Linked DNA regions of Homo sapiens: region 2 is linked to region 1. Evidence: fine-mapped expression QTL. Tissue or cell type: blood mononuclear cells. Region 1 holds a variant in brackets; the other region holds the start of a gene. All regions are shown on one strand. Distances are from middle to middle. Region 1 has its middle 32 kb from the start of RHOU. Region 2 holds the start of RHOU (ras homolog family member U).

Evidence for each region. PIP is the estimated chance that this variant, and not a neighbour inherited with it, causes the effect.
Region 2: it holds the start of RHOU, and the variant in region 1 is fine-mapped to the expression of RHOU in blood mononuclear cells (TOPMed, PIP above 0.99). The same link has a PIP of 0.9 or more in whole blood.

Annotation. Positions count from the first base shown.
Region 1 is chr1:228,760,174-228,775,697 of GRCh38, reverse strand. No RefSeq gene overlaps it. Among named protein-coding and RNA genes, the nearest start is that of RHOU, 32 kb to the right of the region's middle. The variant A/G (reference allele first, on the strand shown) is at 9,973.
Region 2 is chr1:228,726,134-228,741,657 of GRCh38, reverse strand. RHOU (ras homolog family member U) reads right to left here and starts at 6,179. Exons shown (of 3, transcript NM_021205.6): 1 at 5,654-6,179; 2 at 3,927-3,985. The coding sequence starts at 5,915.

The DNA.
Region 1 (15,524 bases):
CATTACCTGCTGCAAATTCTTCAGTGCCACAGCCACAATCAGGAGGGCCGGCCCCAGATGTGCGTGTGCTCATGTTTCGGGTAAAGTCTCTTCCGTATAGTGTTCTGAGATGTGGTAGGCCAAATAACAGCCCCCAGAGATGTCCATGCCCTGGTCCCTGGAACCCTTTACGTAATACAACAAAGGGTGCTTTGCAGATGTGGTTAAGGTTATAGATCTCAAGATGGGGCAATTATCCAGAATTAACTAGGAGGGCACAATCTATGAGCTCTTAAAAGTAGAGAACTGGCTGATGTCAGAGAGATGAGAAGACAGGAGAGATTCAAATCATGAGAGGGACTCCACTCACTGTTGCTCGCTTTGAAGATGGAGAAAGAGGCTAGAGTCAGGGAATGCGGGGGTGGCCTCTAGAAGCTGGGAATGACCCCGCTGATGTCAGCAAGGAAATAGGGACCTCAGTCCTACAATCACAGAGAACTGAATTCCACCAACAATCTGAATGCTCAAGGAAACAGATTCTCCCCTCTTGAGCCTCCAGAAAGGAATGCAGTCCTGCTGACACCTTGAGTGTAGTCCAGTAAGACCCATGGAGAACACATTTCAGATATCACATCTGTAGCTGGGCCCAGTGGCTCGTACCTGTAGTCCCAGCTCCTGAGGCAGGCGTTAGGGAAGAGGGGCTGAGGCAGGCAGGAGGATCACTTGAGCCCAGGAGTTTAAGTCCAGCCTGAGCAACATAGAAAGACCCTGTCCCTAAAATAAGAAAAAAAAACCACACACACAAAAGATAATACATTTGTGTTGTTTTAAGCCACGAAATTTGTGGTATTTTGTTACAGAAGTGATAGTGTGTCCGGAATTGGTGGGTTCTTGGTCTCACTGACTTCAAGAATGAAGCCGCGGACCCTCGCCGTGAGTGTTACAGTTCTTAAAGGCGGCGTGTCTGGAGTTTGTTCCTTCTGATGTTCAGATGTGTTCGGAGTTTCTTCCTCCTGGTGGGTTCGTGGTCTCGCTGGCTCAGGAGTGAAACTGCAGACCTTCACAGTGAGTGTTACAGCTCATAAAAGCAGTGTGGACCCAAAGAGTGAGCAGTAGCAAGATTTACTGCAAAAAGCAAAAGAACAAAGCTTCCCCAGTGTGGAAAGCGATCTGAGTGGGTTGCCACTGCTGGCGCCTGCAGCCTGCTTTTATTCTCTTATCTGGCCCCACCCACATCCTGCTGATTGGCAGAGCCCAGTGGTCTGTTTTGACAGGGCGCTGATTGGTGCATTTACAATCCCTGAGCTAGATACAAAGGTTCTCCACGTCCCCATTAGATTAGTTAGATACAGAGTATGGACACAAAGGTTCTCCAAGGCCCCACCAGCGCAGCTAGATACAGAGTGTCCATTGGTGCACTCACAAACCCTGAGCTAAACACAGGGTGCTGATTGGTGTGTTTACAAACCTTGAGCTAGATACAGAGTGCCGATTGGTGTATTTACAATCCCTGAGCTAGACATAAAGGTTCTCCACGTCCCCACCAGACTCAGGAGCCCAGCTGGCTTCACCCAGTGGATCCCGCACCGGGGCTGCAGGTGGAGCTGCCTGCCAGTCCCACGCCATGCGCTCGCACTCCTCAGCCCTTGGGTAGTCGATGGGACTGGGCGCCGTGGAGCAGGGGGCGCCGCTCATCGGGGAGGCTCGGGCTGCACAGGAGCCCACGGAGGCGGGGGAAGGCTCAGACATGGCGGGCTGCAGTCCCGAGGCCTGCCCCGTGGGAAGGCAGCTAAGGCCCAGCGAGAAATCGGGTGCAGCGTCAGCGGGCTGGCACTGCTGGGGGACCCAGTACACCCTCCGCAGCCACTGGCCCGGGTGCTAAGTCCCTCATTGCCCGGGCCGGCAGGGCCGGCTGGCTGCTCCCAGTGCAGGGCCCGCCAAGCCCACGCCCACCCGGAACTCCAGCTGGCCCGCAAGCGCCGCGTGCCGCCCAGGTTCCCGCTCGCACCTTTCCCTCCACACCTCCCTGCAAGCTGAGGGAGCCGGCTCTGGCCTTGGCCAGCCCAGAAAGGGGCTCCCACAGTGCAGCGGTGGGCTGAAGGGCTCCTCAAGTGCCGCCAAAGTGGGAGCCCAGGCAGAGGAGGCGCCAAGAGCAAGCGAGGGCTGTGAGGACTGCCAGCACACTGTCACCTCTCAATAGGAGACGAATAATACACAAGGCATCCATGGTGGTCGCTGAGTACTTGCTGGTCTCAGACTCCCACATGGAGCCATCGGTGGGGATCCATGTTCCTGTTTAGCTGTTAATTTATGAACCAAGTGTGTTTGGAAGCCCTTTGCACATGAGGGTTTATGAGGACCCTCCCGGGTTTAACTGGCTTTTAAAAACTACAGACCTCTGATCTGGGTTTTCTCCTTACTAATCAGAGTACAGGATTCTGTGTGCCTTTCGCTTCTCCTCTATACTAGACTCAGCATCAAGAGGGCTCTGGCTTTGTCCATCTCCCCTGATTTTACCCACACATTACAATGGGTGAGCCCTGCCAGCAGGCAGTGAGGTGCAGGGGAGGGGAAGGGAGGGCACTGGACCCTCTTTAGAAGACAGGTGGGTCAAAAGCACTTAGTTCTCCAAGACCCACAGCATCTCAGGGGGTGGGGCCCTCACATCCCCCAAGCCTCCTTCACAGGTTGTTGTCAGGAAATTAAACGAGATCATTTATGTAAACATTCTCTCTCTCTAGCTTTCTCACTCTCTTGCTCTCTCTCGCCCTCTCTGTCTTGTGTGTGTGTGTGTGTGTGTGTGTGTGAATTCTCTTTTTATTTGTTTAAATTTTTAATGAAATGCAAACTATTTACAAAAAAAGTATACAACTTGCAATGACCTATTTCAGAGTGAATAAACTCAGTATCAAAAATAGAACATCTTCAGCACCCCCAGATGGCCCTTTCCTGCCCCCACATCACTACCCCCAACTCTAACCGCTATAACCACCCCCATCATTACTCCCAATTATAACCACTATAACCACCCCCCATCACTACCCCCGACTATAACCACTCTGGTCTTCTAATGCCACAGATTGGTTTTGTCTGTTTTTGTTTTGTTTTGTTTAGATAACTATTACATAAATAGAATAATAACATATAATCTTCTGGGCCTGGATTCTTTTGCTCAACTTCATGTTTGTGAGGTACATCCATGTTGTTGTGCATATCTGTCATTATTCTGAATGTTTTAAATACAAAACAATAGATAAAATTGGGCTTTCACTATACAGTTCAAATGCCATTTAGGATAATAATTTCTTCCACTTATCTTAAAAGCTACCAGCAGGAGCAATGAATTGTTTGTGTTTTAAACATATTCATGTAATAGATCTAAAATTCTTTACTTTCTGCAAAAGAAATGGCAAGGGAACCATGATTTGTCTGTATCATCATAGCCTGTCAAGTTCTCCAGGTGCCTAATGGGCTTTGTCTGAATGTCTCTTGCCTGCTTCCCTCCCACAAGTCCTGGGGAGGGCCCCTTTGCTCCAGGCAGTCCCTCCCACAAAGAAGCATCCCTGATTACCCTAAGAACAGACAGGAGAACCATAACAGTATCCAATCTTAGATGCTGTTTTTAATCTATATTTATATAGCTGCGAAAATTAGCAGGGCCATGCCATCCATCTCCAAGGGAAATATAAAGATTAAACCGAATAGGAACAGTGTAACTACCTGCTCACATCAGAGTCTACCATCCAGTATAGTTATGAGGTCACTAAAATTAATGAAACTTTTCTTTAGCTAATGAAATAGCCTGTGGCGAGATCAAATACCAATGAAATTTATTAACTTCTAATCTAGGGAGCGGGAGAGCCAAATCAAATTTTACATGCTAATGTTTTCTGAAACAAAGCAAAATCAAAAGCCTCAGCAAAAAGAAATGAGACATTTGGAAGCTTATCAGTAGGCTGCCAACATTGCCTTTCTCTTTTTTTTTTTTTTTTTTTGAGACGGAGTCTCGTTCTGTTGCCCAGGCTGGAGTGCAGTGGCGCAATCTTGGCTCGCTGCAAGCTCCGCCTCCCGGGTTCACGCCATTCTCTGCCTCAGCCTCCTGAGTAGCTGGGACTACAGGCGCCCGCCACCACGCCCTGCTAATTTTTTGTATTTGTAGTAGAGACGAGGTTTCACTGTGTTAGCCAGGATGGTCTCCATCTCCTGACCTCGTGATCCACCCATCTTGGCCTCCCAAAGTGCTGGGATTACAGGCATGAGCCACCGCGCCCGGCCTGCCTTTCTCTTTACCCTCACATCATGCACTGTGCCTAACTGTTGTACCTTGTCGTGTTCTGTGTTAGGAAAGGAATCCCACGGACACTATAAAAAATTCTGTAAAGGAGTAAAGTGCCTAGGACAGATATAATTATTACCTAGCTGGCAATTCATGAGAATAGCAGACAGGTTTTCAGCAGAGAGAAGGCAGATTGATGGCAGCTTGGATGAGCGCAATTCACAGATGCTGTGTTGGATATCCAGGAGCAGGACGCCGGCAGCCAGCACTTTCCCCAAACATTTGTTACTTCATTACCTAATTTCTACTCACCTTTTATTATATTTGCTCTAGAAGTCAATGCACTCTTGTAGCAATGACTCCAACTCAGTGACTCTTTTGTAAAACAAATTCCAATCAGTGGCAATATTTGAAGAAATGAGAATGTAATGATACTGACTACAGACCTGACACTAGAGAAACACGAGACTCTCTCCCAGGGGCATAGCAACACACACTGGGGCCCGCTGGTCCCACAAACTGGTAATTTAGCCCAGCAGATGCAACAAGGCCACTTGGAAACACCAAACTGCATGATCTTGGCTCCTGGCCCAGCTGCTAATTTGTTGAAGGCAGAAGTGACCCTGCGAGCCATTCAAAGGTGTATGTTACTTTGAGAGGAGAAGTGGAAATATAGACTATAAACTGCTCCAAGAAAAAAAAATCAGATGAGAGAGAAGGAAAACTTCTATGCTGTGACAGTTTATTTGTAAACAAAACATCTAAACATATGACTCTGGGAGCTCCCTTTCTTGTGGATCTCAACCACAGATAGTGTACAAGAGATAAGTATATTTTGGAGTTAAAACTGACAGCTTCCATCTCACACCTTTGGACCTCTTTTTATTATTGTTTTCCATTCCAGAATGTTCATGGTAATTTGAATGAACATGGGTTCTGGCTTTCAGATTTTGATTTCTGATGTCTGCCACCATCCCTCCTGAGCACTGTCACCAGATTCCTCTGTGGAGAACAAGGCAACCTGCACCCTTCCACTGACACAGTGGAATCTCTCCACTCGGAGAAGCGCAAGCTTCTCTGCCAAGCACACAGGACCCTTCGCAACCCAACACCACATCTCCCTCCAGTTTCCTTAGTACACCCTCACATAAACCCTTTAGCCTAGCCAGCCAGGCCCCTTGCTGTGTCCCCTGCAGATCATGCATGGTTCTAGGTCTGTTCCATTCCACCCTCCTCACTAGCCTCAATTCTACTGCGTTCTGATAACCTTTTGTAACGCAGATGTTATTCTCTCTGTCCACGGCGCTCCTGGGGCCAGGCAGGCAGTGTAGAAGCATGATACACAAAAAAGGACTTTGTGTTTTAGGGTGTTCCAGGGATCAGACTGGACCAAGGGAGACAGTCACCCAGGATGAGTAAAGAAAAAAATCGAAATCCTAGCCAACGAGTCACACGAGGGCACAGGAGTCTGAGAAGTGGCACTAAGCTTCAGGTCCAAAGGGTGGAAGAAGGCACAGCCACAAATCCCCTAGACACACGGTGGGACTGCACACTGCCACCGTCTGCCACATGGGTTAGGTGTGGCCACAGGTCAATGAAATTGGAAGTGGTAATCCTGAATAAATATTATTTCTCTTTGCTGTTTTGCTTTGTTTTACAGAATATTGGTGCATACCATTTCACTTGATTTCCTTTCTCCGTCTAACTACAGTTGAAAAATTTATTTAGTATTTGGTCACTCCTGGCCACAAGGTATAGACTTCCTTTATTTTCATAATCTCATGATATTGAGTGACAGTATTTGAGAGGAAGAATCTGGTGTGAGCAAGGAGCTCCGAGTTCTTGGGTTAATTCTGTGAGTGGAAATGGCATGCACCTCTTTTTTGTTTAATTTATATAAACACTTTTCTTAAGAATACTTTGATTTGAAGAAAAGTTGCGAGGATAGCATATGGAGTTTCCACATGCCCCTCCCCCAGTTTCTCCTACTAGTAACACCTTACATTTTCTGGCTACCTTTGTCATAGTTAAGGAACCAACTTTGGTGCATTAACTAAAGTGCACATGTTACTCAGATTTCACTAGGTTTCCCCTAAGGTCCGTTTTCTGTCCGGGGTCCCATCCAGGACATCACATTGCATTTGTTTGTCATCTTTTTTTTTAGCCTCCTCTGGGCTGTGGCAGTTTCTCAGACTTTCCTCATTTTCGATGACTTTGACAGTTTTGAGGAATCCAGGGCAGGTATTTTGTAGAATATACTTCAATTTGCGTTTGTCTGATGTTTTCACCATGATTATCAGACTGAGGGTATGGGGTTGGGGTGGGAAGACCACAGAGGAGAGACGCCCTTCTCATCACATCCCATTAAGATCCTGCTACCAATATGTCTCATCACAGATGCGTGTAGACCTTGGTCACTGGGCCGACGTGGTGTTTGCCTGGCTTCCCCATTGCGAAGGCCCCCCGCTTTATGAGGGGAGTACAGTAGGGCACAGCGCATTCTGAGGGCTGGACAGTTAACCCATGCTGCCTTTGTATCTGTCATCTGGAATCCTTCCACACAGGAGGTGTGTCTCTCGGCGCTTGGGCCTCTCTGGGATGAAAGTTTTAAGTGCACACGAAGGCTTTGCCAAGCTCTCTCTTCCTGATGCCATGATGACTATGAACAGCAGCTCCGTGGCCTGGATCCAGAGGGAGGACAATGACACCGTGATGTATAATGTGAACAAGAAATAAATCTTTACTGTTTGAGCCATTGAGACTTTGGGATATTTTTTATGGCACCATAACTTACCTTCTCCAAGGAAGGGTAAAGCAAGGTTATATTCTCAAGGGCAGTAGTCAGGAGGGTGGGGGCCATGAAAGGGACAGTGTGTCTATTAATGGTTTACGACTAACGCTGGAACACAGCCATACGTGGGAGGTCTGCTCTGATATGACGTGGCCTCCACAGACTGGGGTCCAGATGGCACTAAACCCTCTTCCAGAGTGCAGCTTCTCCTTCCAGATCTCTCCTAATCACTGCAACACACATTAGTTTTATCACACTTCAAATCTAAAATAAAATCATCTCCCCTCAATCATAGCCAGTGCCTCCTCCTGACTTTGTATTTCTGCCCCTGGTGCAGTTATCTTCCCTTTCCTGGCTTAAAATCTTAGTGTGATTGTTGAGCACAGCTTCTGCTGTGGTCAATCATTTCTAGAGATTCCACCCACAATGTGACATTGGCACTCACCTTTTCATTCCCATGCCCCCCTCTCTCGAGCTCAGAGCCTCCTCCCCTTCTGTCTACACCACGGTGACAGATCCTGACTAATCTCCTGCTCTCTCTTCACCCTTCTCTTCTCCTCCAGGTATCTGTTTCTAAACTGAAGACCAGATCAGTTCTTTTTTCTATGTAAACTACCTTCTTGTTCTACCACTGGTCTTCCATAGTCTGGTCCTTCCTCATCTATCTGTCCAGTCTTATTTCCCATGAGTCTTTCACCTCAATTCCACACGTCAGATATCCCTGTTAGATCTGTTTTCCACGTACTTGCGATTCTTTGTAATAGAGTTACTCTTCCTGTTCTGCCTTAACCTCTTGTCTCCTTCTCCAAGTGGCAAGTTCTGGCACCTCTTCAAGATCCGGCTCAAATGTCATCTCCTCTATGAAATCTTTACTGACTTGTCCTATTCCAGGCAAAATTAATCATTCCTTCTTCCTTTTTCAATTTAGAAAAAATCACATTCATTCTTTAATGTTTGACTCAAGAAAGACCTCTTATGTTCCTTCTTTCTGTATTAGTTTGACAGGGCTGCCATAATAAACACCACTGACTTGGTGGCTTAAACAACAAAAATGTATTCCTCACAGTCCTCGAGGCTAGAAGTGTGAGATCAAGGCGTTGGCAGGTTTGGTTTTTTTCTGAGACCTCCCTCCTTGGTTTGCAGATGGTCACCTTCTCCTGTGTCCTTACATGGTCTTCCCTCCATGTGTGTCTGTGTCCTAATCTCCCCTTCTTACCAGTCCTACTAGATCAGGAGCTACCCATATGACCTCATTTTACCTTAATTACCTCTTTAAAAATCCTGTTTCCAAATAGAGTCATACTCTGAGGTACTGGTGGTTAGGACTTCAATGTATGAATTTTGAGGGTGCACAATTCAGCCCAAAACATCTTCCTTCCTTCCTTTTCTCCTTCTCCTCCTTATCCTTCTTCTCTTTCTCCTTCTCTCTCTCTCCCCCTTTTTCTCTTTCTTTTATATAAAAAAGATAAATTGATCCCTGAACTTTCAGCAGGAATAAAGAGCAGTAAAGACTTGGCCCTCGTCCTCAAGCAGTATCTAGTCTCTCACAGGGGACAGACATGGGACCGAATAAGCCCAAGCTCCCTTCAGAAGAAGCCAACAGCCTCTGTGGCACTCTCTCAGGGCCCCATGCCCCAGGTTCCAGTGCAGATCCAAGCATTGTACTAGAGTGCCTCGTCTAGCTTCCTGTCACAGGGAGAAATTGTGAGCTTCTGAGGTCAGGGCCACCTTAGTCATCTCCAAATTTACAGTGCCTTGAAATGTACCTGGTACATAATAAATGATAAACAAATATTGGTTGAATTGAACCCAAATAAATTGATATTATATTTTTACTCCTGAAGGGTTTTTTGCTGATGGATTAACTTTTTCATCAGACTTAAACAAGGGACAAGTTTCTTTGTTAAAGTCAGCAGCTCGAAAGTGATCAGTTAGATGGCATTTTGCAATTCTTTTTCTTTTTTTTAGAAACAGAGTCTCACTCTGTTGCCCAGGCTAGAGTGCATGGCTCACTGCAGCCTTGACCTCCTGGACTCAAGTGATCCTTCTGCCTCAGTCTCCCAAAATAGCTGGGACTACAGGTGTGTGCCACCATGCCCAGATAGTTTTTTTTTTTTTTTAATTTTTTATAGAAACAGGGTCTTGCTATGTTCCCCAGGCTGGACTTGAACTCCTGGGCTCAACTGATCCTCCTGCCTCAGCCTCCCAAAATGCTAAGATTACAGGCATGAACCACCCGTAATTTGCTTTTTAAACTGATAAAAATATAAATTAATATCTTTGAAAAGGCAATGTTTCTACAATTTTTTTGGGAAAATGACTTCTGAGTTTCCTTCTATTTAGGAATCTCTCAGGTCTTTCCCACTGCAATAAGTTGTGTATATAAAAATTATAACTGCAATAACAAATTAATATTAGTTGCATTTTGATGTGAACCAAAAATAAAAATAAGCCTCATACTATGTGAAGGTGATAAGCAAGGAGAATCTTACAAAGACTTGAAAATATTTTGAGAAAATAAAAACTGCAAAATTAGAAGCATTCAACTTAATTATTACATAAAGTTTAAACAACTAATGAGTAGTGTTAATGGTCCGTTCTAGTTTAAGGTTACTGGTGACAGTATTTGTAACTGGCTGTTGGGTCACGTGAATGATCTACCATAATTGGCAGACAGAAAGTCCCACTTTCCTTTTACTTTGGAGACTAATGGTAATTTTCCCCCAGCCTCATCTCTATCTCCTGTCTTGGAGTGAGGTTCTGTAGAAGGTCTGCGTGTGACCGCTTGTGGCTGTCGGTGCCTTGCTGTAGCCTTCGAGGTGGAACCCAAGCTGGGCGCTGCAGGAGAGGAAACAAGGCCTCACTGAGGGGCAGAAACCAGGAAGCTGGGCCAGCCACGCCCTGAAGACTCTGCTCCTCTCTGTAG[A/G]AGTAGAGACCAGGTGTGACTTCCCATGGGGTGGGGGTGGTGAGAGTTGAGACAAACTGTCCCTGAAAGTGAAGAGGCCCCAGGCGGAGCACCTTGCACTCTGGAAGAGTGACACAGGACCCACTGGAACTAAAACTGTAATGTGATGAGATGTTGTCAAAGCAAAGTAACAACAACAATAAAAATACTAGTAGGCACTTACATAGCACTATGAGCCGGTGTTCTGGCAGATTTACTTATATATTAATACATTATGAACTATGTTTTTGTTTAATAGGACACACTTATCAGTTGCAAAAGACTACTAATGCCTACATTTTTCTGGCAAGATGTCATTTTCCATTAAGGCTCTATAAGGCTGGGTGTAGTGGCTCACATCTGTAATCCCAGCACTTTGGGAGGCTAAGGCAGGAAGATCATGAGCTCAGGAGTTAGAGACCAGCCTAGGCAACACAGCAGGATACTGTCTCTACAAAAAAATCAAAAAATTAGCAGGTCATGGTGGCTCCTGTAGTGGCAGCTACTCTGGAGACTGAGGTGGGAGGATCACTTGAGCCCGAGAAGTCAAGGCTGCACTGAACTATGATGGTGCCACTGCACTCCAGCCTGGTTGACTAAGCAAGATAGTGTTTCAAAAAAAAAAAAAAGAGAGAGAGAGAGATAGAAAGAAAAGGCTCCTTTAAATCCAGCCTTCAGCAGATGAGGGGGCTAAAACGGGCATGCCTTATATTAAGAGGGCTATTAGGGATTGCCCAGAAAATCTTTTTTTTTAAGCTGTTTTTGCCACATAATTAAGCTCATAAAATTTTCTTTAAAGAACCAAATAGGTTATATAACCAAAAGCCAAAGTCAAGTGATTCTTATGAGCAAACAACATATAGTTAATCCACAAAATTATTTTGGGACCTCACACTGTTATAAAGTTTTTCCTTACACAGAAACAAAAGCTTCTTCCCATAACATCCTTCTTTATTCTTTATATCTCTTTCGACAGCTCGAAGTGTGTTTGGTCCTCTGAGAAATCTCTGACCAAATGCAGCAGTCATTTGCCCTGGGTGGTGCCTTTCCTCTTTACTAAACCTAATCAATTCTTCTAACTCTTAATTATGTGAAATGTATATAGAGTATATGTTTATATAAAATATATGTATAGAAATGTGTACTGTGTAGTTTAGCAGTGGATGCTGTTTGCATGGTTACACAAGTACATGATGCATTGATAATTCATACACAAGAAGTTCTTTTGGGATGGACTCTGGTAGGCGGAATGGGAATACGCTATACAGCTGATCTTTGAACAACAGGGGTTTGAACTGCATAGGTCCACTTACACACAGATTTTTTTCTATACGAATTACACAGACTGCACTGGCCTCTCCTGCCTCCCCTTCCACCTCCATCACCTCTTCTGCTTCTGCCACCCCTGAGACATCAAGACCAATCCCTCTTCTTCCTCCTCCTCCTCAGCCTACTCAACATCAAGGCGAAGAAAAGGAAGACCTTTATGATGATCCACTTCCACTTAATAAATAATAAATATATTTTCTCTTCCTTTTGATTTTCTTAATAATATTTTCTTTTCTCTGGCTTACTTTATTGTAAGAATACCATATATAATACATATAACATACAAAATATATGTTAATTGGTAAGGCTTCTGGTCAACAGTAGGCTATTAGTAGTTAAGTTTTGGGGCAGTCATACATGGATTTTCCACTGCGTGGGGGTGTTGGTCTCCAAACCCCACATTGTTTAGGGGTCAACTGTACTGGCAGTGCTGGCCTGTTTTCTCCTTGGGGTACAGTCAGCATGCATGTCATTATAGTTTTACTTTCTCCCAAGTGTATTTCATTGCTTCAGTTTTTTGTCTTTGGTTTGAATTTCTTTTTTCATCAGAATTTATAGACCATCTGCAAAGCAGTAACTTTGGAGGGATTACAATGCTTCTATCAGTCAGCATCCCAGCTGGAAAGAGATGACGCACTCAAAGGGGTCACTGAACGGACTTAAATTGACAGACTATCTAGAGAAACCAGCACAGGATTGAGGAGACTGACAAGCTATGGTAAAGCCCCAGGAATCAGCAACAAGGGAGGCCTTTATCACCCGTCAGCCTGTTGGGAAGTGGCAGGCAGGGGACAAATATGAGAACTCAGAGATCTGGCTGTGAAGAGGGGCTGCTTGCAGGATCTGAGACTCTAGAAGAGAAACAGATTTCTCTTAGGGAAGGAGCAGGCAAGAAACCCCCAACCTCTCTCCACCTTTTCCATCTCCCCAGTTCCTGCTGCAGACCAAACCTTGTGAAAAGCAGAAATCTAAAAGATGAAGGGGGAAGAAGTTAGTCTTCCAGGCCACACAGCAGGGTCAGTAGGGGTCTGGAGGGGCAAAGAGAAAATCCAGGTCTGCACAAAATGCAACGAGAGAAGCATAGTTTCTCAGAGAGCGGGCACTGTGCACTCTGCATCTTTTCATGACCGTATCTAGTGTCTAGTGCAGGGCTTGACACCCATGACATTCTCAACAAGGGTCTTACTGAATCCGCGAACAGATCAGAAGTCAGTTGTTCCTGAAATAGAAGGCATTGTAACTGACAACAGAATACAAATGAACTGTGGCTTTTTAAAACAACCACATATTACTATTATCTAAAACTTACTCTTCTAAACAATGTCTTTATTAATCAGCTAATATTAAAGGAGAATCTGATAACTCTGATTTTTCTTTCCATCAACCTGTCCTTAAGCTGCACACAGAAAACTGTCTTCAGAAGGGAGTTTCTGATGTTGTTAAGCACCTAAAATTTGTGTAAGCAAATAAAAGAGCAAAGCCCTCCTAAATAGAGTATCAAGTTTGCAAGACTTGGCCACGGGAGGCCAATTCCAGTTCTAGTTCTGATTCTACTGCTTGTGCTCCCTGGAGTAGGTTACCTATACTCTGCATGCCTCCATTTCTTCAGCAAAAATAGGAGTAATAGCAGTACCTGTCTCTTAGACACTCATTTCTATTAACTGTCCTGCCTTCACCAAACGCTATTATATAGCACACTGCATGTTTCAGTCAGTCAATAACTTCTATTGCTTCCAACAACTCAAAATATCTTGTTTTAATCTGTCATTGTTGGTTCTCTCTAATTGATCCCCTTGCCTGGTTACTAGAATCTACCTTTCTGTCTAGCTTACATGAACTGACACTTTGGCTCTGTTCTTTAGTTTTGGAGATTGTGATTAAAATAGGGATGCCAGATAGAAAACAGAATTTTAAAATATAAATAAAGACAGGTAATACAAAGATAAAATACAAAGTAAAAAAACTTTGAATTTCAGAGAGACAACTGATAATTTTTTTAGTATACCTATATCCCAAATATTGCATGGCAACCCTAGATTGGAGGGCACCTCTGGAATCACCCTTAAGTTCAGGATTCAGCACCTCTCAGCTCATCCCATGCCACGTTCTCACCCTTTCCTAGAGCAGCCCTGGGTCTTGAGTACAAATTCAACAACTTAGCTCTTCTTGGAGGGATGTTTAAGTAAATACTGCCCCTGGGAAGTAAGTGATCATTTCCCCTTACTTGAGCCTTGGCATAGATCTACAACACTAGGATACCTATGCCAAGGCTCAAGTGAGGGGAAATGATCACAATACCATAGATATCCTGGTTCTCAATATTGGATGTGTAGTAATAGCAGGATATACTGTATGAAAACCAGTGGCGTGATTCAGATTTAATGGTCACCTTTTGCTCTCTGAGGATCTATCAGAATTCCATCTTCGATGTCCTGAGAGAGAAGCTTCCTCTCCCATCTCTTTTCAAAAAAATGGGCTCTGTTTGCTTTGTAAATGTATGAAAAAAGGGCCAGTCTTCCAGTTTCGGGTCCGATAAGGACTGTTGAAATCTGAAAGGCCTTGGCCAGGTTAATGACATGGAATTCTGAAGACACTACCTAGAATCTTATCAAATTCAAAGCTAACTATAAATTGTTATTGCTTTCTAAAATCCAAGTATAAGCCTAAGTGCCTTTGAGGGAGAATGGGTCTGTCCACCTGGAGGAGAATGGAGGTAGATGCTGCCGTGCGCCCCACAAATCCAGTGGGACAGTTCCTGGCTGACATACGGGAACTCACTGTTTTCATCTTCATTAGCCATAGAAATCTGCCCTAACTGACTGCATAAAGGCGATTGAGCTGGTTAGCAAATTCAAATTCAATAAGGCATCTGGGGAAGATACTTTCTGCCACTCAAAGCTGTTTTTGAAGTTGTGGGCTCTAATTCTTATCACTGTTAACTCTGCAGGAATAATTTTACCAATCTTATTGCAAAATGTAGCCCATCCTTTTTTTTTTAAGGGTAATCCCTTACTCCCTCCTCCCCGACCCTCTCAGTTCAGACTCTTCCTCTGTGTTTACTTTCTGAATGTTAATAGGAGTTGGATTGTTGAGGCCAATATTCTGACTGCAGTGGCCATGAAGATAACTGGTCCTTCTACAACCAGACATTGTTATGACCTCTGTCACATAATAATGTGATTAGTCCAAAAGTCCGTCTCCCCTCCCTCCCCCTGCCCTACCCACAAACACTGTGACCAGAGCGAAAATCCCTACGTTCTTTGGATAAGCTGAATGCACACCCTCTATGCCTTTTTTTTTTTTTTTTTAAACGGAGTTTCGCTCTTGTTTCCCAGGCTAGAGTGCAATGGCGCGATCTCGGCTCACTGCAACCTCTACCTCCCAGGTTCAAGTGATTCTCCTGCCTCAGCCTCCCGAGTAGCTGGGATTACAGGCATGCACCACCATGCCTGGTGAATTTTGTATTTTTAGTAGAGACGGGGTGTCTCCATGTTAGTCAGGCTGATCTCGAACTCCTGACCTCAGGTGATCCACCCGCCTCAGCCTCCCAAAGTGCTGGGATTACAGCAGTGAGCCACCGTGCCAGGCCCATGCCCTCTATTTTTTAAAGAATATAAGACAAGTTTCTAATCTCCATTGACAATCATTTCATTTCATCCATTTCATCCATTCAAATCCCCTGGCTCTGCCATTTTTCTAGCCATTAGTTGAACTTGGACAAGTAACTTAACCTCTTGAGTTTTCTCGATTTTCAAATGTAGAAAAAAAAATTAACTTAGAGTAGCCTTAAGGCTTAAATAAAATTATTTTAAACACTGTCAAGCACATACTGGAGGCTAATACCCAATCATGGTTGTCACCGCTGAGCTGTGAACTCACTCAGTTGGGATGGCAGCCCCATCTCCCTCTAGGGAAGAGCTTGCAGCCCAGGTGGGAGGAGAAGATGGCTGCCAGGCAGCCATGTGAGCTGAGGCCATGCTCTTCCCAGCCAGGTAGCCCCCAGCCAGTCACCTAGCAGTGCAAAGTACTAGGGCTTGGTTACCCCTGCCCAATGTGGGACTTCTCTGAAAGGCAGCCTGGCTCTGGACTTCTCCTTGGATTGATAAGAGACTCCCACATGCGTTACCACCAGAGGTTGCCCTGTCCAGCCTACTTCCTTCCCTTTATCTTCCCCAGACATCACACCCCTCTATAAACCTTTTACA
Region 2 (15,524 bases), 34 kb after region 1:
TAAGTTTCTTCATGCCAACTTTGTGATGAATAAATAAACACAGAAACACAGCCAGGTAGACTATGGCTCAGTCATGAAGATCTTTTAATGGAATGCTCCCTCTGTTCTTAGAGGGCCTCAAAGAAAGAAGCATAAAACTGAGACCAGTATTAAGGCAGCCCCCTCAGGTAGCTGCACCCCTGGCCATGCCCTGGTATCTGGGGTTGCATTACTGAGAAAAATAAAGGCAAGCACAAGGGCTGGGACTTCTGAGGGGGCTTTGGAAAGCTATCTCCCCAGATCTCTTGAGATTCTGGCTAAGGGGCTTGAGAAATAAAACAGAAATTAGACCCTCCTGCTCAGTGCCTGACCTGAAATCTTAGAAATAATGCAATACACACGTGCAATGAGGACAACTGGAATGCACCCTTAAGAAAAGGCGTTCTGAGGCCAAGCAATTTGCATGTGCTTGCCAGGTCTGTGGTACGGACACTGCACAGAAGTCTGATCAGGGTTGGCGGGGCAGAGAGACGAGACTGGATTCTACATCCCTCTGGTCTAGCTGCAACTTGATTTTTTTTTTTCAGTATAAGATTTTTCCAAGTACTTTATGGGTCAAAAGGCTGAAGAATTTTCAGCTTCTATTGGCAACTCTCCAGTGAACTACTCCTATTTCCGCAATACTTTTTTCTCTTATGCCAAAGGTATGTTTTTTCAAGCCTCCAGTCTGTCTCTGATCAATCTGCCCTTGAGTGATGTAAGACCAGTGTTAAAAACTCCTTTTGACATCTTATAGACTCGCCTACCCTCCCTAACAAGAAAAGCCAAAGTACAAGAAGTGATTTCTTCAGCATGTAGAGCCATCCATACTCTGCTCCCATCAACTTCTGTGGGAAACCCACACTCCAGCTCCACATCCCCAAGTTCTAGCCTATCTGTGCTCACGTTGATTCTCCAGGCATCTGAAGTGGAGGTCAGTGGAGTCACTTAACCCTCAAGGCTCTTATGTCAACTGCCTAGAAGAGGTATGTGTTCCTTCCTCCATAAGGAAACTTGGCAGGTATCACAGCAAGTCCCTTAAAATGTATTTTATCAGATCAGGACTAGGGAGAGTAGAAAAGAACTGCCACTTTGACCAGCTTGGCTAGTAGTCTAAACAAAGACTAATTTATAAATGGGGGATCAGGAAAACAAAAACAGAACAACTGACTTATCTTACCAGCAGCTTATTTTTCATAGTTTTTGAAGATGGTTCTTCTTCAAAAGTTTTGAAGTTGGTTCTAAAAGTCTACAAATTTTTAGATAGTGGTCTTATTCATTATTTAATTGGGTATACTCTTCTAACCAGTACACAAAGGTTAAGAAATACAGTAAATCTCATTGAAAATATTGCTAAGAGGCCAGAAGAATAATTTTCAAATAAACTGAAACTTACAAATGTAGCACCAAAACCTTCGTTTTTCCCTAATTATAAACTTTTTTGTGCAAAAATACTACTAAAGTGATGCTTGTGCTTCCCTGATTTTTAAACAGGAACAATTTAACTCTTCCTTGATGATTCAGTCATTTATGCAAAGTTCTTCTGGTAAAATTCCTATTTGTCTTTCAAAACTCTGCTCAGAGGTTTTCCTGCCAGGCCCAACCAGCCTGCACCTCTAAGCCCGAACCTCTTTTCTTCCCTTTGCTTGCTCCTTCACGAGCTTCCATTTGTCTTCCCTCCACACTGTAAGTCTATTAAGGGGCAGGCCCACAACTTATGTTTATACCCCCACCACCTGGTCCTTCTCTGGTTCATCCATTCTAAAACCACGAGATTAAGCCCTGCTATGTGCCAGGCACTATGCTGGGCACTGGGCATGAAACCCCAGCTCAAGAAGCTGCATCCTGCTTGAAGAGCCAACACTTACGGGGAGCCCAGTGGACAGTGATATTTGAGTGACATCCTGGGGCAGGTAGGTGCACTGAGCTTCTGCTCCAGCCCGTAAGGCTCCCTGCTAACTGTGCCTTTGGACTTCCTGTATTTTCCTGACTTCCATCTTATCCTCAGGGTCTGACTTCAGCAGGTCCGATGGCTATGTTTACTGACATGTTCCTCTGCCTGTGTTTTATTTTTTTTGAGATGGAATCTCTCTCTGTCAACCAGGCTGCAGGGCAGTGACGCGATCTCAGCCCACTGCAACCTCCGCCTCCCAGGTTCAAGCAACTGTCTGCCTCAGGCTCCTGAGTAGCTGCTATTACAGGCGCCCGGCACCACACCCAGCTAATTTTTGTATTTTTAGTAGAGACGGGGTTTCACCATCTTGGCCAGGCTGGTCTTGAACTCCTGACCTCATGATCCACCCGTCTCAGCCTCCCAAAGTGCTGGGATTACAGGCGTGAGCAACCGCGCCTGGCTGGCCATGTTTTAAAACTCAGAAAACCTGACCCCCTGGTAGACAAAGCATCCTCACTTCATACAAGGAAATGAAGCTTGAATTATAAATATCACCATTGCATTCAGAAAGATTCAGTGCTAGAAGTGACTGTATTCTTTGATTTTTCTTTTTTTTTACCCCCAAGAGATGGGATCTTGCTCTGTCGCCCAGGCTGGAGTGCAGTGGCACCATCATAGCTCACTACAGCCTCAAACTCCTGGGTTCAAGCGATCCTCTCACCTCAGCCTCCTGAGTGGCTGGTGGCTGGGACTACAGACAGTGCCACCACACCAGGCTAATTTTTTTATTTTGTAGAGATGATGTCTTGCTATGCTACCCAGGCTGGTCTCAAATTCCTGGCCTCATGCAATCCTCCCACCTCAGCCTCCCAAAGAGCATGAGCCACCACACCCAGCCTGATTTTTGTTTTCTACAGACAATACAATACGGACAGTGCTTGGTTTTTCCAAGCTGAAGTGCTCCCAAGCTATGGCCTGCACCAGCCCGGTGTTCCTTGGAGATCAAGGCTCCACGGTCTTATGTCATCTTCAGGTTTAAAAAATAAGATCTGTCCTTAGCTCTGAATCTGCTGTCCCAGAGTAGGTGAGCAACTTGGAAGCTCTGGCGTAGATGAGGCTCTGGGGGGCAGTGGAAAGCCAGTGCCTTCATAAACACAGATAGTCATGTGATGGCACCTCAGAAAGTGAAGGGGGCACTTTCACCTGCCTACAAAGTACCCCCGGAACTTTGCTGAACTCTAGAACATACTAGAGAGACAAGTTCATTAACTATCACTTTGCCAAAATCAAGTACCCCTGGGTGTTCACAAGGCACAGCCTGACTTCAATGACTCGAGTACCCACCAATGGGGGCTTCTTCTGGGGAACACAAAGAGGGAACCCTACACTCCCTGGCTATTTCCTCCAAGGGCCCAGCCCTCGAGACAAGAACCAGCGTTCACAGTTTGGATAGAATAAGCCCAGTTAGTTCATCCCTCCAGCTTAGGACTGCTCTGACAAATGTATCTGTGCTTCAAGTGATGGGGCTGGTCCTAGCGAGTCAAACCATAGCTCAGGAAGGGAAATATTAACCCTTACTGATGTAAATTCCATCTTTTTCTTGAGCAAATTTCTTCAATATCTGACTCACTGGCCTTTAATAAAACGATTATAAGACATCACTAACTTAGTTTGGGAAATGATGACAAAGCATCACTGAAATTTTTTCATAAAAACCAGGGAGTAAGTAATAGAAACTCCTACAAGAGCTGTTCTTGACACTGCTTCCTCCCTTGCCTGGTTACGCAGAGCTGGGCCAAACCCTGCTTTATTAGTTTGGAGGTATCTTCCTCTGCTTCCTGCCGGCCAATAACCTGGCCCCTGCCCACCCTCAGAGAAGGGCCAACAGCAGGGGTGGGTCCACTTCATGAGGCTTTAGAATGACCCAGTTACTGACTGAGGGAATCAAAGGTTATTTGGAAATCTTTAAAAGGCTGTTTCCTTTCCCAGCACTGAGCTGTAACGTGATACTGACCTGTCCGGCAGTGTCACAGAGTTGGAGTCTCACGGGCCGCCCATCCACAGACACCACCGCTTAAAAACAAAACCAAAATGACAATCAGGAGGTGTCTTTTAACCCCTTTCGGAATACTAATAGTTTTAGCTTTCACTATCATTCTCACTCCAAACCCCTTTGCTCCTATTTTAGGTCCTCTAATGAATTAAAGACTAGCCAAAAACAAGGAGGCCCTGTGGAGGCATTTTTGTATACAAACCCACGGCTGGCAAGTCACTCCATTACCGTGAACCAGGCAGCAAATCCCTGAACGCTTTGATGGTGACCCTAAAAAGGCCTATGCTTTTCTCCCAGTCCTGGAAGATTTATTTTCCTGTCACACTTGTTTCAAAGGACCTAAAAACAACACTGGGGGTAAATGGGAAGCAACCCTGCAGTTTTAAATCAGTGGAAAACCTCACAAATAATTCTGTTTTCCCTTGGGAAAGGTTCCCCAACTTCAGGGTTTATCATACAATTCTAGTGTGTTTTGAGAACATGTGCAAACACAGGCTGCCCGCATTGTCCTGTTTAAGAAATGAGGGCACTCCTTATCTCTATGTCAGGTCAAAAGGAGGATTAAAAAAGAAAAAAGAAAGCCATGGCCCCCTTTCCACTGGGATCCGGGGACTCGGGGAGTGTGGAGAGGCCTGCAGCAGGACATGTTGTGGAGGTTTCTATTTTAATTAAGCAGTCAGTTTTGTCTCTTTCTACACAACTTTCTAATTGTTTCTAAATATTTATACTAGTCAGCTGCAGGGGTGGGGTGGGGGGAGGGGAAGAAACAATACCCTGCGGTGGGAACCCACCAGTACAGCACCCATTTCTCTAAGGTACCTTTGGGATGAAAGGAAGGTCAGAGAAGCAATTTTTTTTTAAAGAAGCAAGACAGTTAAGTGTTTCATACTAGTTTCTGTGAATTTTAACTTTTTCTTAAATTTCAAAAAGACCTGAATAGCAAGATAGAGAATTCCTTTCTCTTTGTATCTACCAAGGGAAATGGCATCGCACCCGGTACATAGGAGCTTTAAGTAGCTTAAAGGGATCCTGAAAAGATACCAACAATCAGAATCCGAGCCCATGTGGGCAGGGAAGGTGGTGGGGCTCAGAAGAAAGAAATGGTGTTTACTCTTCAGGTTTCATCCAAACCTAAGCCTTCACGAGGGCCGCTCGCGCTTTTTCACTAAATCAAGTGTTTTCCCGGCGTCTCCGCGGCTCTTTAAAGCGGAGACGCCCCTTGTGAGCTGAGCCGCCTAAAAGCAAAGGAGCGACGCTCAGGTAAAGGCACCTGCGCGTCACCTTCTGATTGAAACTCTGCAGCGGCGCCAGCGACGTCGCCCTCAGGAAACTTTGCTCTATGCAACAAACTGACCGGGCACCCTGAACTCAACCTGTTTCACTCCTACTTATCTGTTGCTTAAATTGTGAGATTTTTTTTTTTTTTTTTTTTGGCAAGGCTCTGACTGCCGCTCCGCCCTCCTCTCTCCAAGCCCACTCCGCCGTGGTCCTTTCGTGTTAGCTCCGCGCTTGCCCGGTCCCTGAGACTCAGGAAACGTCCTGCACTCCTCATTTGTCCGGCTTCCCAGCTGGAGCCGCGCCCGGGGCCCTGCAGCCCCCTTGGGAACCTCGCGACCCTCGCGCCACCTTCCTTCCCCTGGGTGGACCGCGGCCACGCGCCCCCGGCCCCGGCCCCCCGGCCAGCTCACCGGAGAAGTTGTCGAAGGCAGTAGGGATGTACTCGGTGGGGTAGCCGTTGGTGGTGTAGCTCACCACCAGGCTCGTCTTGCCCACCGCGCCGTCGCCGACCAGCACGCACTTGACGCCGCGCCCCTCGGCACCCCCCGCACGCCCCCGGCCCCCCGGCTCCCCAGGCCCGCGTCCCCCGCGTCCACCGCGCTCCCGACGCGGCGGCACCGGAGGCGCCTCGCAGCGGTCGGGGAACGCGGGGTCCCCCTGCTGCGGGGGCATCGATCCGCGAGCGCGGGCTTGCGGTCGCGGGCTAGCAGGGCCCGGCCCGACCGCCCCTCCGCCCCGGAGGGTTGCGGTAGGGAGGAGCTGTCACCGACAGCTGCGGGCGCGTCCCCGGCCCTGGAGAGTGGCGGTTCCGGGCCGCACGGCCAGTAGACAAAGGCGGCCAGGGAGGGTCGTGGCTCCGCGCTCCGGCGGCGCCAGCCGCTCTGCCCTGCGCTGTTGGAGGACAGCGGTCCGAGCGCCGTGGATCCCAAGCGCTCTGTCTCCGCCCGGCTTCCCGGCGACACGACGCGTGGGGGGCGGGCAGGCGGGCGGGCTGGCGGGGAGGGAAAAGAGGCGGGTCTGGCCGAGCGGCTCGGTCCCCGCGCCAAGACCACAGCGCCCCCCGCCTGCGCGCCGCGCGCCTGCACCCGCGCCCGAGGCGCCGCCGCGACCAGGCGGGGACTGCGAACACTGGCGCGGGAGGACCTGGAACACACGTTCCGGGGGACCCCGCGCACCCGGTCCGGGAAGCGACGCCCGAAGGAGCCGGGCCAGCCTCCGCAGCCTCCTCCCCAGCTCCCAAGAGGGTGACCACCGCGCGACTGGCCCGGGAGGTTCCGCTTTCTGGCGCCCACGCGAGCCAGGAAGCCTGAGCCGCCTCCTATTCACTCCGTGGAGCCCCCGGCTGGCCACGGCTCCACCCAGGGGGAAAAATGAAGTGTCCTGGAGGCCTGTCCTGCGAATGAGATTGAATTAACAGACAGCTTTTTTCCTTAAGTCTAACTGCAGCTGATCGTGTGATTTTTTCTCATTTTGAAGCAAAAGGATGCCAGCTCCATTGTGAATGCTCCTTTGACTTTGTCTTTCGGCATGCCGTGAACCTTTATACATGTATGCTCCAGAAATTTTTTTATACCCCCAATTCCTTCATTTACTTAAAGGTAATTCGGAGACATTAATATGTCTGAAAAAATATTCCGTTTCCCTTTGATTCATTTCTCTCTCTGCCTTCCTTCTACATGTGGTCAACAGTCTATTCAGAAAAAGGACGCCTCTTAGCCAAGTCAGAATACCAAGAGTCCTGGGGGTGTACAGCGTGGTGTGAGAAGGGCCACATATTATTAATACACATTGATACTAGTGGTAGTAAAAATAACAATAACAAATACTGAACTTTCATAATGTGTCAGATACTGTTGTAAGCACTCTTCAAGAACTAATTCTTTTAATCTTAACATTACTTACAGATGAGAACACCTGAGGCACAGAGATATTAAGTAACGTTTTGGGATTCCACAAGCTAGTAAGTGGCAATGCCAGGATCCAAACCCAAATAGTCTAGCCCCAGAGCCTGAGCTTCTAACCAAAATCCTGGAGGCAAAAATAAGTCAGTATGATAAACGTAATCTTGAACGTATGGCCATGGTCAGAATGCAGAGATGGATTTATCAAGAAGTTAGAAGCTTGAATCCAGGACCCCTGACTTGCAAAGGACACTTTCACATTGGAAGACCTAGCAATGTGTACACGTGGTAATATGTTTCTGTAAATTTTGAAAAAAAAAAAAGTATTTTAATCACCACCAGTTATGTTCACTGTCTTTTTAAACTGTAACTTACCCTCATATTGAGTGACTTTGAAGAGGCCATGAAGATTTTGGGGATCAGCCAAAGAAAGTGAAGTTGGGGAGACCCAAACAGGTTGTTTGGGTGTAATGGGATACAGAATCAGGATGAAGGTGAGATAAGGGGGATGTCAAGGATGCAAAATTTATGACAAATTGAGCATTCAGAGGCAATATCAAAAAACAACAAATTTAGAGGGCCCTTACTCTCAGGGTCAGGCAAGTGCCAATGTTAAGTTTTGAGCCTCAGGTACCTGACTTGCCTCTCCCTCGCCCTGGCTGTGATGACAGGATATATTTATGTGGTTTACAGTTCTCCTATGTAGATATGTTGTTGCTAGCCATCCAGGTATAGGAATGGCTACCACTGACATACCTATGACCCTCTGTGAGAGTCACATTGGTGCCCTTAACTGTCTTACTTTCCCCAACACTAGAAGGGTTCCAGTAGCAAGAGTAGCAGAGCTTGAGATGGGCAGAGCTGGAAGCTAGTCTGGCAATTCTTTCCATCATAAAGCACCTAATATCGGCTGGTGCGGTGGCTCACGCCTGTAATCCCAACACTTTGGGGGGCTGAAGCAGTCAGACCGGTTGAGGCCACGAGTTCGAGACCAGCTTGGCCAACATGGCGAAACCCTGTCTCTACCAAAAATAAAAAAATTAGCCAGGTGTGGTGACTCACACCTGTAATCCAAATACTCCAGAGGCTGAGGTAGGAGGATCACTTGAGCCTGGGAAGTCGAGGCTCCAGTGAGCCCTTGATCAACCAATATACTCTAGCCTGGGCGAGAGTGAGACACTGTCTCAAAAAGAAACAAACAGAAGAAAACACAACATTGTTAGAGAAGGTTTGGTTCTCTCTACTAAACCTGATCAAAACAGAAGTTGTCTGCTGTCAGAAATGTACCTGTACTCTAAATGCAGCAGATACACTTACAAATGCATCATACATTTTTGGAGAAAAATCACATGAAATGAATGATCTGAATTCCCATGTTTGTAAGGACATGAGGCTGTAGTAGTACAACAAAAAGCAAGTTCACCTGTGTGTGAAGTAACTTCCTATTGTTCTTATAGAAAATATCTTACAAAACTGAAGAAGTGATCAAAGGGTATGCAACTGAAAAATGAAAATAATGTCATAGAAGTGTGTCAAGCAGTTTATTAAAATGTCATGTCTTATGTATTTTGTTTAAGTTTATGGTGTTTGTTAGCCTTTTAAAATTTGTAACTTATTGTGATGCATTTCTCACTTTAAACATTTGTTTTTGTATCTAATTTTCTATTCTTAATTTTGTATTTTTTTTTCTTAATGAAGTCTCACAAATGTGATAAGCCTCAGGCCCTACAAAACTTGGCTTTGCCCCTCCATCTGGCCAGCTGTCAGTTTTTGTGTCCTGTGCGTCCCCCTCTTGCTTTTCCCCTTCTCATGCTGAATATCATCCCACGCCCACTCATTTGGGCCCGTTTTTCTGGACACAACTTAGTCAGCTCCCTGCATCCTTATCTAAAATGCCGGGAACTAATGTTTGCCCTATTCATGAGACTCTTCTGTAGGCAACATAGGAAATCAGACCCCACGCCAAACAGTTCGGTATTTCATCCAAGTCCAAAAGCAGAGAGATGACAGAATGCCTACCACTTTACCCCTTTACAGAATGCCTTTACTTTACCCCTTTTTACGTTGAACTGTCCCGCACCCACTCATTTGGGTCCATGTTTCTGGGCTCGACTTAATCAGTCCCCTACAGCCTTATCTAAAATGCTTGGAACTAATGCTACAAGAAGCCCTCCAAGGTGTGTGGGTTCAAGTTGTATGATATATTTGTTTGTTTATTTGCTTATTGTCTGTCTCCTCTTACAAGCTCCATGAAATCAGAAACTTAATGTTGCTCATTCCTATATCCCACACTTAGAAGCACGTGGGGCAAGTAGTAGGTGCTTAATAAATACTTAAGCAGTGGTAAATACGTAAGTGAAAGGAAAACATGTTTTGAACTTGACGGTTCTGCAAAAAAGAAAGAAAGAAAAGGAGAAGAATGTAAAACATGGACTCTCAAAACATGGACAGTTGTATTTTTATGCTTTTATAAAATATTTTTAGAATGAATGAAGGAAATTTGACCACTTCTTGCAGCTATTAATAGAAAACCATGTCTTTGCTCAGTTTTAAGACAAAAAATGCATTACACCTCATGTATTCCCATTTGTTTTTCACCAAGACAGTACAACGCCTTCATTGTGCAGTGGGCCTAGAAAATTCTGAAAACTGGGTGCAGAATTTCCGTTCTTAAGATCTTGTCTCTCTGAGGCCCTCCAGCCCAGCTGTGAGCATTCATCCCCCCTACCTACCCCCAACACCTCCTCCAGGACTTCCAGCAACCCACCCCTGGGTCCCCAACAACATGTCAGAGAAGGTGTCTTCTCCTCGAACTACAGGTCTGTAACCCCTTCCTCCTTCTTCCATGAACTTGCTCTTTCTCCGCTTAGGTGTCACCTCCTCCAAGGATGTTTATTTTTCTGCCTAATTTTCTATACTTAATTTTGTGTTCTTTTTCTTAATGAAGTCCTCAAAATGTGATAAGCTTCAGGCCCGACAAAACTTGGCTTTGCTTCTCCATCTGGCCATCTGTTCGTTTTTGTGTTCCATAGCCTCCCTCTCTTGCTTTACCCCTTTTTATGTTGAACTGTCCCACACCCACTCATTTGGGCCCATCTTTCTGGGCTCAACTGAATCAGTCCCCTACAGCCTTATCTAAAATGCTCAGAACTAACGCTTGCCCTATTCATAAGAATCTTCTACAGGCAACGTAGGAAAGCAGACCTCCACACCAAACAAATTGGTGTTTCATCCAAGTCCAGAAATGTTCCCTGACCCCTTATGTGGATATATTTGTGCTTGTCCCTATCACAGCCCTTATCTAGTGAAATCATCTACTGATTATACAACACCTACCCTTGCTCATAATCCCCTAAAAGGGAGGATCCCCAGTTCACAAAACTCTTCCCCTAGCACAGTATTAATACATTTTCTAGGATTTTTTCCATCAAGTTATTTTAACTGTTCCACTAGCAAATAATTAATAGTGAATTTGTAGTTTTTTACTAAAATGGTAAAAAGAAAAAAAGGTCCTAATAGACTTTCCACTGTGTACATGTCACTTTTGTATCTTTTGATATATTTAAGAAATAAATAAATTTTTATCTGCTCAACATATTCCTTGCCAGGTGTCATTGTCATCATCATATTAAATATAAAGCTGTTTTTCCTGCTATTGATAACATTTCACCATTTACTGAGTACCAAATCAGAACAGCACGGTTTTTTTGGATCTTTCATTTTAGCAGGTCATATAACTCTGTGTGTTCATTCACTCTTTAAATGGTAACCCTTTGCCTTGGACACATTAATCTGATTTCTTTCCTTCAGCAGTGCCCTAGTTTTTTCAATACCCTATAAGAGGACATCAGAAGAATATTTCTCTAGAACTGGAGACTCTAAGCTGGGTTGTCTATTGCCAGCATGGCTGTCTGCTCCCAGAATTTCCTTCTTTGTATGGTTCTCGGCTAAAGTTGTCCGGAGACATGATTCTCAGAATTGAGAAGACTGAAGGGAAGTGGAGGAGGGTCATATGGTCAAACATGCCAGTGGATGGACACAGCGGTGCCCAGCACATCCTCACTAGCCTCCTGCTTTGCAGTGATATCATCTCACTGCTGGCTCTGCTGACCCAGAGCAGCCTTCAGCCCTCACCCAGCCCCTGGGCCCCAAAGAGGCTGCAGTCCCTACACCTCATGCCTCAAGCTTCCCTTCCACAGCCTCCAAGGGCCATATCTGCATAACTTACTATTGGCTTTTCTCCAAGTTCCCACCAGTATCCTGCACAAGGGTTTCAGCTGGTCAGGGTTAGGCACTGTTTCCCTCTGAACTTCCCCAGCAATTCCCAAACTTGTGAAAGCTCTCCTTCCTTAACCCTGTACCTTGGAGTGGCTCTGATTTCCTGACTGGGCCCTGACCAATAGTTTCTTGTTTACCACTGGGGATGTCATCCTAGGAAAAAAAAATGACAAGGAAAATGTCTTGCCATGTTTCACTAGAAAAGATGGGGAAATCATATAAATGTCACCAAACCACCAAATGGGCCACCAGTGGCTCCTTTCAGGAATCACAAACATCAGTTAGTGTCATGGTAAGGGCTCAGACCACATGGTTGGTTGGATGTGCTGATACTAGTTTCCCTGCCTCCAGAAGTCCTTTTATCACCTGCCATCACCTTGTAGATAACTAGAATGGATAAATTAAGCTCTTCCATTGGTATCATGAAAGTTTAAGATGTAAAAATCAATCCTTAATTTTGATTGTAAAAATTATTTCTGAAACTGTTTATGTTGTTTTATACTAGTCAGATTAGGCTGTACTATGCTGCAATAATAAGTGAACTCAAAATTTCAATGTCTAGAAACATAGGAGTTAATTTTTTGGTCATGCAAAATTCACAGCAGATTTAGTAGCTCTCCAAGGCAGCTCCCTTTCAAGTGGAGACTCAGGGATGCAGTCTTCTTGCATCTTGTAACTATGCCACCTGTGACACTCATTTCTGTGTGTGCATACCCTGCATTTCTATACATGAACATGTGCATTCCTGTCTGTATATGTACCCGTGCATTTCTATGAGTGAACACATGGATTTCTGTGGGTGAACAAATGCGTATAATGGCAATTTTATAAGAGCTCAAAACTAAAAACCATATAAATGTCTAAAACAGTAAAATGGATGAGTTAATTTGGTAATTCATGATATACTACTATTCAGTCAAGAAAATGAGTGAACATACAGGAATGAATCTCATCAACTAAATGAGAGGTGAAAGAAATCAGACACAAAGGAGTATAAACTATCTTATTTGATTTATATAAAATTTAGAAATGGACAAAACTTGGCCAGGCACGGTGGCTCATGCTTGTAATCCCAGCACTTTGAGAGGCCCAGGCAGGTGGATCATGAGGTCAGGAGTTCGAGCACAGCCTGGCCAATATGGTGAAACTCCGACTCTACTGAAAATATAAAAATTAGCCCAGCGTGGTGGTGCATACCTGTAGCCCCAGCTACTTGGGAGACTAAGGTAGAAGAATCGCTTGAACCCGGGAGGCAGAGTTTGCAGTGAGGCAAGATCGTGCCACTGCACTCCAGCCTGGGCGACAGAGCGAGACTCTGTCTCCAAAAAAAAAAAAAGAAAAGAAAAGAAATTGACAAAACTCATCAGTGCTAGATGTCAGAGTAATTGGGGGCAATTGTTACATTCAGGAAGGAAAGGGGTCATGGGAAACTTCTGATGTTCAGGCAATTTCTTGATCTGAGTGGTGGTTTTATAGGTGTGCACTGTATAGTAATTATTGGCTATATATTTGTTTCATTCACTTTTGTGAATCATGCTATATTTTTAAATTTTAAAGATTAAACAAATTCAAACATATAAATCATATTAAACAGAACTCATGGTTATTTGCATTCCAAAGAACTGTTTGCTTTAGCTTAGCACAGTGCTAATCACATATTGTAAACTTTTTGAATTAAATAACACTCTAATAAAATTTAAATGTGATTTGAGTACCAAAATCCTATTTATACAAAGCTTTTCCAGGAACATGAAGTACTGCACATCATTTACATCTTTAATATTTATTTTTAATGGGGGTATCATCTTCCACCATGGCTATTTATAAGTGTTTTAATATTTTAACTAACTGAACTGGTTCTGCAGAATTATCACAAGAGATAAATGGCAATTTATATGCATCAGTTCTGGAAGAAAAATGAAAGCACCAGGGAGAGCCCTTAGAGGGATGGCAGGTAGATTTGCCTAGAGGAGAAAGGCTAGACTCGCTGCTAACGTGGAAAACAGATGCTGTTCTAGGCAGGCTGAGCTACACTGGTGGCACCTTTCCTGCATTAGTCTTGGTTTATTTTCCTCTGTTAAATCCCCTTCTCTGGGTCTTCTCAGCTGTTGCAACCCTGCCATTCCTCTTTGATGAGAAAGGCCATCTCCATTCCCTGGGACCTGGAGCTGCTATAGCAATCCCAATTGGTCTTCCCAGCTGTCTGACCCTCCCTTTGCACAGAAAAGCCTCCTTCCCAGACCTTCAGAGAAACTGATTCATTTCCAACTTCCCTCCCCAAACACACATCACAGAAACTTTCCCAAACGTTCCCCAGCTGCCCAAATTCTCAGAGATGATAAGAACTCATTAGAAACCCCTCTTAGCTATTGCAAAACTGTGATCTCCCCTAATTTTTCAGTCACCCTGAAGATAAGAACTAGCCATGTAATCATTTCTCAACCACCATAATCACCCTGGCCAGCAGTTCTAGAATCATGAGACTATCCTACTTCCCTCCAGAAACTGCAGCCCTCTCCCTTTTCTAGCTCTTCCAAGCTGAGCACATGAGCACTCCCCCAGTCCTACAATGGGAAGAAGAAAGGTATTTTCACATATTCTAGTAGTTGTCAAAATTCATTGCTGGGTTTGCAATAACAATATAAGACTCAGAATGAATGTATGGACTTCCAAATGCCATATAAATCTGCTTGTCAGTCTGAGAAGAAACGAGCCTGGGCAACATGGTAAAACCTCGTCTCTACAAAAAAATACAAAAATTAGCTGGGCATGGGGTCATGTGCCTGTGGTCCCAGCTACTCAGGAGGCTGAGGTGGGAGGATTACCTTAACCCAGGAGACAGAGAGGTTGCAGTGAGCTGAGATCGTGCCACTGTACTTCAGCCTGGGCAACAGAGTGAAACACTGTCCCAGAAAAAAAGAGAGAGAGAGAGAAGAAATGAGTGTCTACTGCATCAAGAGGACTGTTTTCTCTATCATATGCATCCCAGAAGAATGTATTGAAAGGTAAATACTTATGCTATGATTGAGATCATTAAAGGAATTTGATTTTAGAAGAGCAGAGGTGTAGTCATTAGCTACATTATTTAATGGACCTATCTGACTCATGAACTTAGTGTGAACAATAGTGATCAACACAGACATGCTTAGAGTGTCAAGGAGTTGACAATTCTTGTAAAAAAGAAGATACCTGTAAAATATCTGTAATGCAAGACAGTGTATGGTGAGGGCAAGGGGATGTGCAAAGTGCAACAGAAAGTCAGAAGATGCCTTAGCACAGACTTCTGGATGGGGATGCAATCAACCCTACTCTGACCAGGTGAGAAGACTTTAGCACAATCTTGGGTCCAAAAAGACCCTCCTCCCCCTCATCTTCCAGGTGATCACAAATCTACAACAAATTATAACCACATTGATTATACATGCATTGTCATATTTAGTCCTCACAAAATCTAAACCTGTGCTATTATTTCCCCAATTTTATAGATTAGAAGATGGCAGCTCAGAGAAATTGAGTTTCCTAACAGAATCAGGACTCAATCTCTAGAGCAGAGATTTTTTTTTTTTTTTTTGAGATGGAGTCTCACTGTCTTGGCCAGGCTGGATTGCAGTGGCACGATCTCAGCTCACTGCAACCTCTGGCTCCCAAGTTCAAGCAATTCTCCTGCCTCAGCTTCCTGAGTAGCTGCGATTACAGGCGCGTGCCACCACGCCTGGCTAATTTTTGTATTTTTAGTACGGACGGGGTTTCACCATGTCGATCAGGCTGAGTCTCGAACTCCTGACCTCATGATCCACCTGCCTCGGCCTCCCAAAGTGCTGGGATTATGGGCTTGAGCCACTGCGCCCGGCCTTAGAGCAGAGATTTTTACCATACCCTATAACCTTTCCATCAAACCATTAGACTTACACAAGACAACAGAGCAATGAAGTTGTTTTAAGAAGTTTGTACTGATAGGCTTTAGCAGCATGGTCACTGGACAGAACAACAGTAGCACCCTTGATCACTGATTCAGTCTGAGGTACACAGTACACATGAGTACGTACGGACCGGCAGTGAAAGACAAAGGAAACACTCCAAGGTTTTCCAGTGTATATTAGGA